Homo sapiens: one gene and its partner. The protein of the gene in region 2 interacts with the protein of the main gene of each other region in a pairwise test. Each region holds a gene or a part of one and is shown on either strand. Other genes may lie near its edges. The genes, in order: FAM133A and CT45A1.

Region 1 (3,832 bases), about 42 Mb from region 2:
ATATCCTATTTGTTCTACTGTGAAATATAAGTATTAGTTTTATCATATCATATGCTTGTTTTTCTTAATAAGGTTAGATATAAATTATTTGCATAGTGATATGTTTTTTTGTTCAATTAACATGATTTTTTGGCGGGGGGGCTAAATGTTCATGCTTCTACATGAGATGATACATAACACAGAATCTGATAGTATACTCAGACTGAACATAGTACATTAACATCTGTTGATACCTCCCTTAATATGAACATACACACAATCCCTTCCACCACCCACTCCTACCACACAAACACGCAAGGTATATAATGACAAGTGTAGCAGCATTATCTTTTTTTGTAGGTATCTAAGAAGCAAAGCATTGCAAGTTCATTTATTTTTGAATGACTTCCTCCTGTTCTTCTTGGACAAGTTGTATCTGAATACACAAGTGAATTCTTTTTTAAAAACCATTTTATTGATGGATAATAGGCACACAATAAATGTGTGTATCTGTGAAAGTATCACCACAGACAAAATAATGAAAATTGTGTCATCCCTGAAAGTTTCCTCATATGCCTTTGAATCCCTCCTCTTGTCCCTAGATATTCACTGATCTGTTTTCTGTTCCTATAGATGAATTTGCATTTTCTAAAATTTTATATAAGTGGAATAATGTAGTATGTTCCTCTTTTTGCCTGTCTTTGCAGACTTATTTTGAAATTTACCCATGTTGTTGTGTGTATCAGGAGTTTATTTTTCCTGTTTACTGCTGAGTAATTATTCATTACCTGGCAATACTACAATTTGTTGATGGGCATTTTTGTTGTTTTGAGTTCTGGGCTACTACAAATAAGGCTGCTATGATCATTGGTATATAAGTTTTGTATGGACATATGTTTTAATTTCTTTTAGAAAAATACATAGGAGTGGAATGACTGGATCACATGGTAGGTGTATGTTTCACTTTTTAAGAAATTACCTGTTTTCCAAAGTGGTTGTTTTGCATTTCCACCAATAGTGCTCACATTTGATATGGGCAGTGTTTTAAAAGTTAGCCATTCTAATAAGTATTCAGTAGTATTTCATTGTGATCTTAATTTATATTTCTTTGATGACTAATGATGTTGAATACCTTTTCATGTGCTGATTTGCCATCCACATATCTTTTTTGGTGAAGTGACCATTTGTATTTTGTCCATTTAAAAAAATAGGATTGTTGTTTTATCATTAAGTTTTGATAGTTCTTTATATACTCTGGATGCAAGTTCTTTATCAGTTATAGCTTCTGCAAATATTTTCTCTCAGACTGCATATTTTCTTTGCATTCTCTTAAGGGTGCCTTTTACTGTTTTTAAAGAGGAAATGTTAGTAATTTTTATATTGATACATCATATTTTGGGGGCACATGTGATTTCAATACATGAATACAATGTGTAATGGTCAAATCAGGGTAATTGGGATAAGAAGTTTGCAATTTCGATGAAGTCCAGTTTATCTTGTTTTTCTTCTATGGAGCATACTTTGTGTGTCATCTCTTAGAAATCTTTGCTTAACCCAAAGTCACAATTATTTTCTTCCATTTTTTTTAAGTTTTATACTTTTAGGTTTTGCATTTAGGTCTGATACATTTTTGCAAAAAGTACAAGGTATGGATTGAAGGTTTATTTCTTTTGATATAGATATGCAGTTGTTCCAGCACTATTTGTTGAATAGACTGTCTTTTCACCACTGATTTGCCTTTGCACATTTGTCAAAATTAGCTGTCCTTGTATGTGTGGGTCTATGTTGGAAGCTCTAATCTGTTCCTTTGTGTACTGATTTTAATGACACAATCGGTAGTTATCCATTTGTTAGATGCATTTGGGAAAGAATGAGAACAAAATTGTGTGATAACAGAATTTCATTACAATGGAGACAGTCACAGGAGCTGGATCTTCATCCTTGACCTTTCACTTCTGCTCCCAACTATGTGAGATAAAGGGTCAGATAACAGCAGTAAAAACCTAGAAAAGAAATAACAAAAAGAAACATAAATGTTCTTCTATTTTGTGGAGTTGCCAGTGTGTAGATGTCCATAGCCCAGCCACAAGAATGGTAGTTAGCATTATTCAGGAGCACAAATAATGCCCTTGTTTTTCTCACTCCTGATAAAGAGAGACCTGCTTGCAAAAATGGAAATATTGAATAGAAAGTATCTTTAAGCTGTTAATAAATTATAGTTAAAAAAAGAATAGTAATAAAACATTGGTTGTTATGATGTTACTATTATTAATAGTAATAAATAAAACATTGGTTGTTTTATAACATTTCAAACCATAGCAGTGGTTTTCAAACAAAAATATTTCATTTTATACTTATTCCTATAATACAGATATACTCAAATTAACAGAATATGGTATGTTGTTATAGATTTTTATTTTTTAAGGAAACATTTCTGAATTGCGTTTCTAGCAATATACCCTTAACTGCATGGAGTTTAAAAGGGAAGTTTAATGCAACATAAGATAAGGAAAATTGTTTCCCAATTTGGATATTTAACATAGCGCTATTTTTTAAAGAAATTTTAATTGTCATGTAAAAATTACATATATTTTGCCATATAACATGAAGTTTTGGTATATGTATACATTGTTGAATGACTAAATCAAGCATTTTAACATATATATTACCGTAAATACTTATTTTTTTCTGGTGAGAACACTCAAAATCTCTCTTACCTCATTCCTGTCTAACTGAAATGTGTCTTTTTTTTTTTTTTTTTTTTGAGACGGAGTCTCGCTTTGTTGCCCAGGCTGGAGTGCAGTTTGTGATCTCGGCTCACTGCAACCTCCACCTCTCAGGTTCAAGTGATTCTCCTGCCTCAGTCTCCCGTGTAGCTGGGGCTTCAGGTGTGTACCACCACTCCTGGCAAATTTTTTTTTTTTTTTTTTTTTTTTTTTTTTTTTTTTTTTTTTTAGTAGAGACAGGGTTTCACCATATTAGCCAGGATGGTCTCCATCTCCTGATCTCGTGATCCGCCCACATTGGTCTCCCAAATTGCTGGGATTACAGGCATGAGCCACTGCACCAGGCCGTGTTGTTTCTTTTGACAGTATCTCCTCAAACCCCCAACTCCCAATTGTCTAGTAACCACCCATTTTACTCTTTGTTTCTATGAATGTGACATTTTTATGCTCCACATGTGAGATCACATGGTATTTGTCTGTTCCTGGCTTATTTCACTTAGCATATTGTTCTCCAGATTTGTCTATGTTTCCACAAATGACAAGATTTCCCTTTTTAAAGTCTGATCAATACTTTACTGTGTATACATACCATATTTTCTTTATCCATTCATCAACTGATGGACACTTAGGTTTATTCCATATCTTGGCTATTGTACCTAATGCTGCAATGAAAATGGGAGTACAGATATCTCTTCAATGTATTCATTTCATATCCTTTGGATATATCCTCAGTACTGGGATTACTAGATCATATGGTAGTTCCATTCTTACAGTAGTTTTGAGGAATGTCCATACTGTTTTCCATAATGGCTATACTAATCCACATTACCAGCAACAGTTTACAAGGGTTAACTTTTCTCCATATCCTCACCAACACTTACCTTTCGTCTTTTTGATAATAGCTGTCCTAACAGGCATGAGATGATATCTCATTATGTTTTTAATTTGCATTTACCTGATGATTAGTGATGTCAAGTATTTTTTCATATACCTATTGGCGATTTGTATGCCTTTTGAAAAACATCTCTTCAGATCTTTTACTCATTTTAAAAAATTATGTTTTTTAAAATTACTGAGTTGTTTGAGTTCCTTATATATTTTGAATATTTAACTCCTTATCATATGTT
Region 2 (3,832 bases):
ATTAAAATCTCCCATTAGTTCTGCCTTTTCGTTGAAGGCTGATGATACAGATTTCAACATTGAGATCGGGTTCCCACTACACCAGGGGCTAAGGAAGAGTATGTGTGATATGTCTAGAGAGCTTCTTAGTCCTCCCGTGTTTTTCGATTAGAGTTAATGGAAGATCACAGCAACCCCATCCAGGCAGGACATCTAATGGTTCAGACTCTTCCGTAATGAAGGTTTGAGTCATCCTGCCAGGCCAAGCATCATGACCAACTGACATGCTATCTCAGGGCAAAGGGAATGTGAAATGGGTAGCGAAAGAACGTAGTGATAAATACCAGCTACAACACTGTGAGCTGCTGCAGAAACCACGACTGTAATAGTATTTACCTAATGGGTTAATAATATCTACCAGCACAGGTGGGAATACAAAATAACCAAAACACAAGTTATCCTTTCAAATAAAATGCTTTGGGAAAAAGAACATCTTTTACTAACAGAAATTTCTTAGCCTCTGGAAGGCTATTTGATTCGGTAACATATGCCAGGAGACTTCAGCAATATCCTGCTCCATTGTAGAAAACAGCAATCTGATCCTTTTCTCTCCTCAATCATTAACGAGATTATGCATTTGGGGTGTGATAATCCTCCAGGGACAAGTATTCTCAAATCATACGTTTCAGTTTCTTCTTAAGGTGCTTAACAAAGTCTCGTCTCATACATCTGAAAAGAAAGAGACATGTCATTAACCAAAAGATAGCCAAAGAACCTATGCTGTAGGAAGCGCTGTGACAGATAGAAAGATGAAGTAACAGTCAGCATGGAAATAGAAATGTATCTGCATGGTAAGAGGCAGTCTAGCCGGCATAACAAATGCTGGCAAGGGTGTGGAGAAAAGGGAACCTTCATACACTGTTGGTGAGAATATAAATTACTACAACAACTAACTATGAAGAACAGTTTGGAGGTTCCTCAAACAACTAAAAATGGAGCTATCATATGATCCAGCAATCCCACTGCTGGGTATATACCCAAGAGAAAGGAAGTCAGTGTACCGAACAGATATCTGCACTCCCATGTTTGTTGCAGCACCATCCACAGTAGCCAAGATTTGGAAGCAACCTAAGTGTCCACTAACACATGAATGGGTAAAGAAAATATGGTACATATACACCACAGAGTACTGTTTAGCCATAAAAAAAAGAATGAGATTCAGTCATTTGCAACAACACGGATAGAACCGAAGGTCCTTATGTTAAGTGAAATAAGCCAGGCACAGAAAGACAAACTTCACATGTTCTCACTTATTTTTGGGAGTAAAAGTGTAAAACAACTGAACTAATGGAGATAGAGAGTAGAATGACAGTTACCAGAGGCTACAAAGGTTAGTGGGGGTGGAGGGTGTGGGAAGTGGGGATGATTAATACGTAGAAGTATGGAATAAATAAGATGTCGTATTTCATAGCCAAACAGGGTGACTATAGTCGGTAATAATTTAATTGCACATTTAAAAATAATGAAGAGTATAATTGTATTCTCTGTAACGCAAAGGATAAAAGCTTGAGGTGATAGAAACCCCACTTACCTTGATGTGATTATTACACATTGTTGTCTGTATCACAATATCTCATATAGCCCAGAAATATATGCATCTGCTATGTGCCTACACAAATTTTTTAAAAAGAGGTAGTCTAGCAAATACAAAGAGTGTCAATTGAGGGACAATGCGCACCTCAGACTATGGTGAAAATGGAAGTCTCCATAGTCTTCGAAGAATGAGTTACACTCAGATAACATTAGCCTAAGTAACTGTGGAGACAGCCGTAACTGTGAGTGAGGACCAGGGTTTGAGAAACGCAAGGCAGGGGCTGTTCCCCAACGCTCACCCCCAGTGCTCTATTGAGCCCAAGTGCTTAAAGAAATTGGACAGTTCCTATTTCTACCCACCTTGCTGCTTCCTTGATGATGGATTCAAAAAATCGCTTCCTGACTGCAGTAGGTCCTTGCACTCCTTCAAGCATTTCGAAGATTTTTTCATATTCTGAAGATGTTGAAAAAAAAAAAACTTCAGTATTATCAAATATAAAGAAGAATAGAAGTGAATCTACACCTCAGCAATCATGCTTCAGAGGCTGAAATGTTTTAAATGCTTAAATCAAGATACCTGCACATACAAAACCTAAATAATAAAAAAGACACCTGCACATACATACGAATGTAACTCCTTTAACCATAACCAAGTAAGAAAAGAAAAAGAAAAAATGTACATGCTTTAGTCAAAGAAAAGAGGAACCACCATAAATTATGTGCAATCTCAACTCTGGCAAAGAATGAAACTCAACAGGCAACATGAATATCTTCTGAATCATAGAAAGAGAGACTTCCTATAGTTTTATAAAACAGACATTCTTATATTACTTACTTTGTCCAACGCATCGGAGTTCCTTCACTAATTTACGTTTTATATCAGCATTAATTTCTCGTTGGCTTTTGGGAGAGGAGGCTGTTTCTCTGCATTCTAGGTCATCTCCAGAGAAACTGCTGGTAACGTTTCCTCCCACAGGTGCATTGCTACCAGGTTTCTGCATCATCCTATCTTTGCTGAAACCAGTGAAGTCATCAATCTGAGAATCCAATTGGCTGGGTGGAATAGCATGTCCTGTCATAAGCTCTGGTGAAACAGATTTTGAGTAAAAGCCATCAGTTGGTGTTTGACCACTTTCTTTCCCCTCCACATAGACCTCATGAATGACAGCTCTGGAAATCAAACTGAGAAGCTGAGCTGTGAGATATGTGTGTTTCATCACCCCTCTGGGTACATCTATGTGCTCCTCAGTTTCTAGGGAATTATTTATTTCATAAATGGGAGGATACACCAGGGAGAAATCCCAGGCCTGACAAACGGAGGCCAGGACACATAATACAATAAAACCACCTCTTATTTTCTGGCCCTATGAATAGACATGGAAACCAAGTAAGGCAGTACAACTCTAAAGCAACATTCACAGATCCCTGGTACTCATGGGACAGTTTCAGCTTGTTATGCTTTACAAGTTGAAAGCAGCAAGTCTCACTTGATATCATGATTTCTCAAATTCACTTACAAACTGCCATGTTTTACTAAGCTGGAAGCCAGACAACTTGGACACACCTCAACCAGCCTCCTCTCTACATCAAACATATTCTGAGAAAATAGAGGTGGCCATTACTGCTGAAAGTTCTACATGTACTCCATCAACAAAAAATCCCTTTTAGTGTATGATTTTCCTCATCCTTCCTTTCTGTCTCACAAAAGTGACTTTCTTTTCACTCCAGGTCTGACACCTCTCATTTATTCATCGTCTGTGGCAGGCAGCGTGCCGGTAGCTGGGGATCAGCAGTAAACAGCCCAGAGAGCAACGTTCCCTGCCCTTCTGGAGCTCACATCCTCATGGGGCGGTCAGACAGTACGTGCACAATGAGCAAATGAAACATACAGTGTTGGGCTAGTGGTAAGGAAGCAGTCCACAGGCCTGTGGGCAACAGCAGCAGAGGGAGCCCCAGGAGCTGCTGCTGGTTGGGCAGAGCCTTCTGTGGAGGTACCCTTGGGCAGGGCTTGAAGGAGAAAGCAGAGCTGCCTGCGCAGAGGCAGAGGGGGAGTTCCAGGTTGCGGTGAGGCCAAGGATATGGGCTGGAGTGGGGATGGACCGGGCACTACGGGGTGAAGGACAGTAGCAGAGAGAGTCAGGAGATGATGGGGCCCGTGTGAGGAGAGGGTGACGGAGGCCAGGCCACGCAGAACCTCACAGACCAAAGCTGCTTCGCAGTCGGTTCTGAGTGCTTAGGAGTGTTGAGGATGGGTGTTCAG

The links.
Region 1: the proteins of CT45A1 (region 2) and FAM133A interact in binary tests that used the Homo sapiens proteins (3 or more experiments, as listed by UniProt).

Annotation. Positions count from the first base shown.
Region 1 is NC_000023.11:93,677,025-93,680,856, forward strand, and holds part of FAM133A (protein FAM133A), read left to right. Parts: intron 1-891; exon of another isoform or gene 892-926; intron 927-3,832.
Region 2 is NC_000023.11:135,719,852-135,723,683, reverse strand, and holds the end of CT45A1 (cancer/testis antigen family 45 member A1), read right to left. Parts: intron 2,657-3,832; coding exon 2,408-2,656; intron 2,027-2,407; coding exon 1,933-2,026; intron 709-1,932; coding exon 651-708; 3' UTR 456-650; downstream 1-455.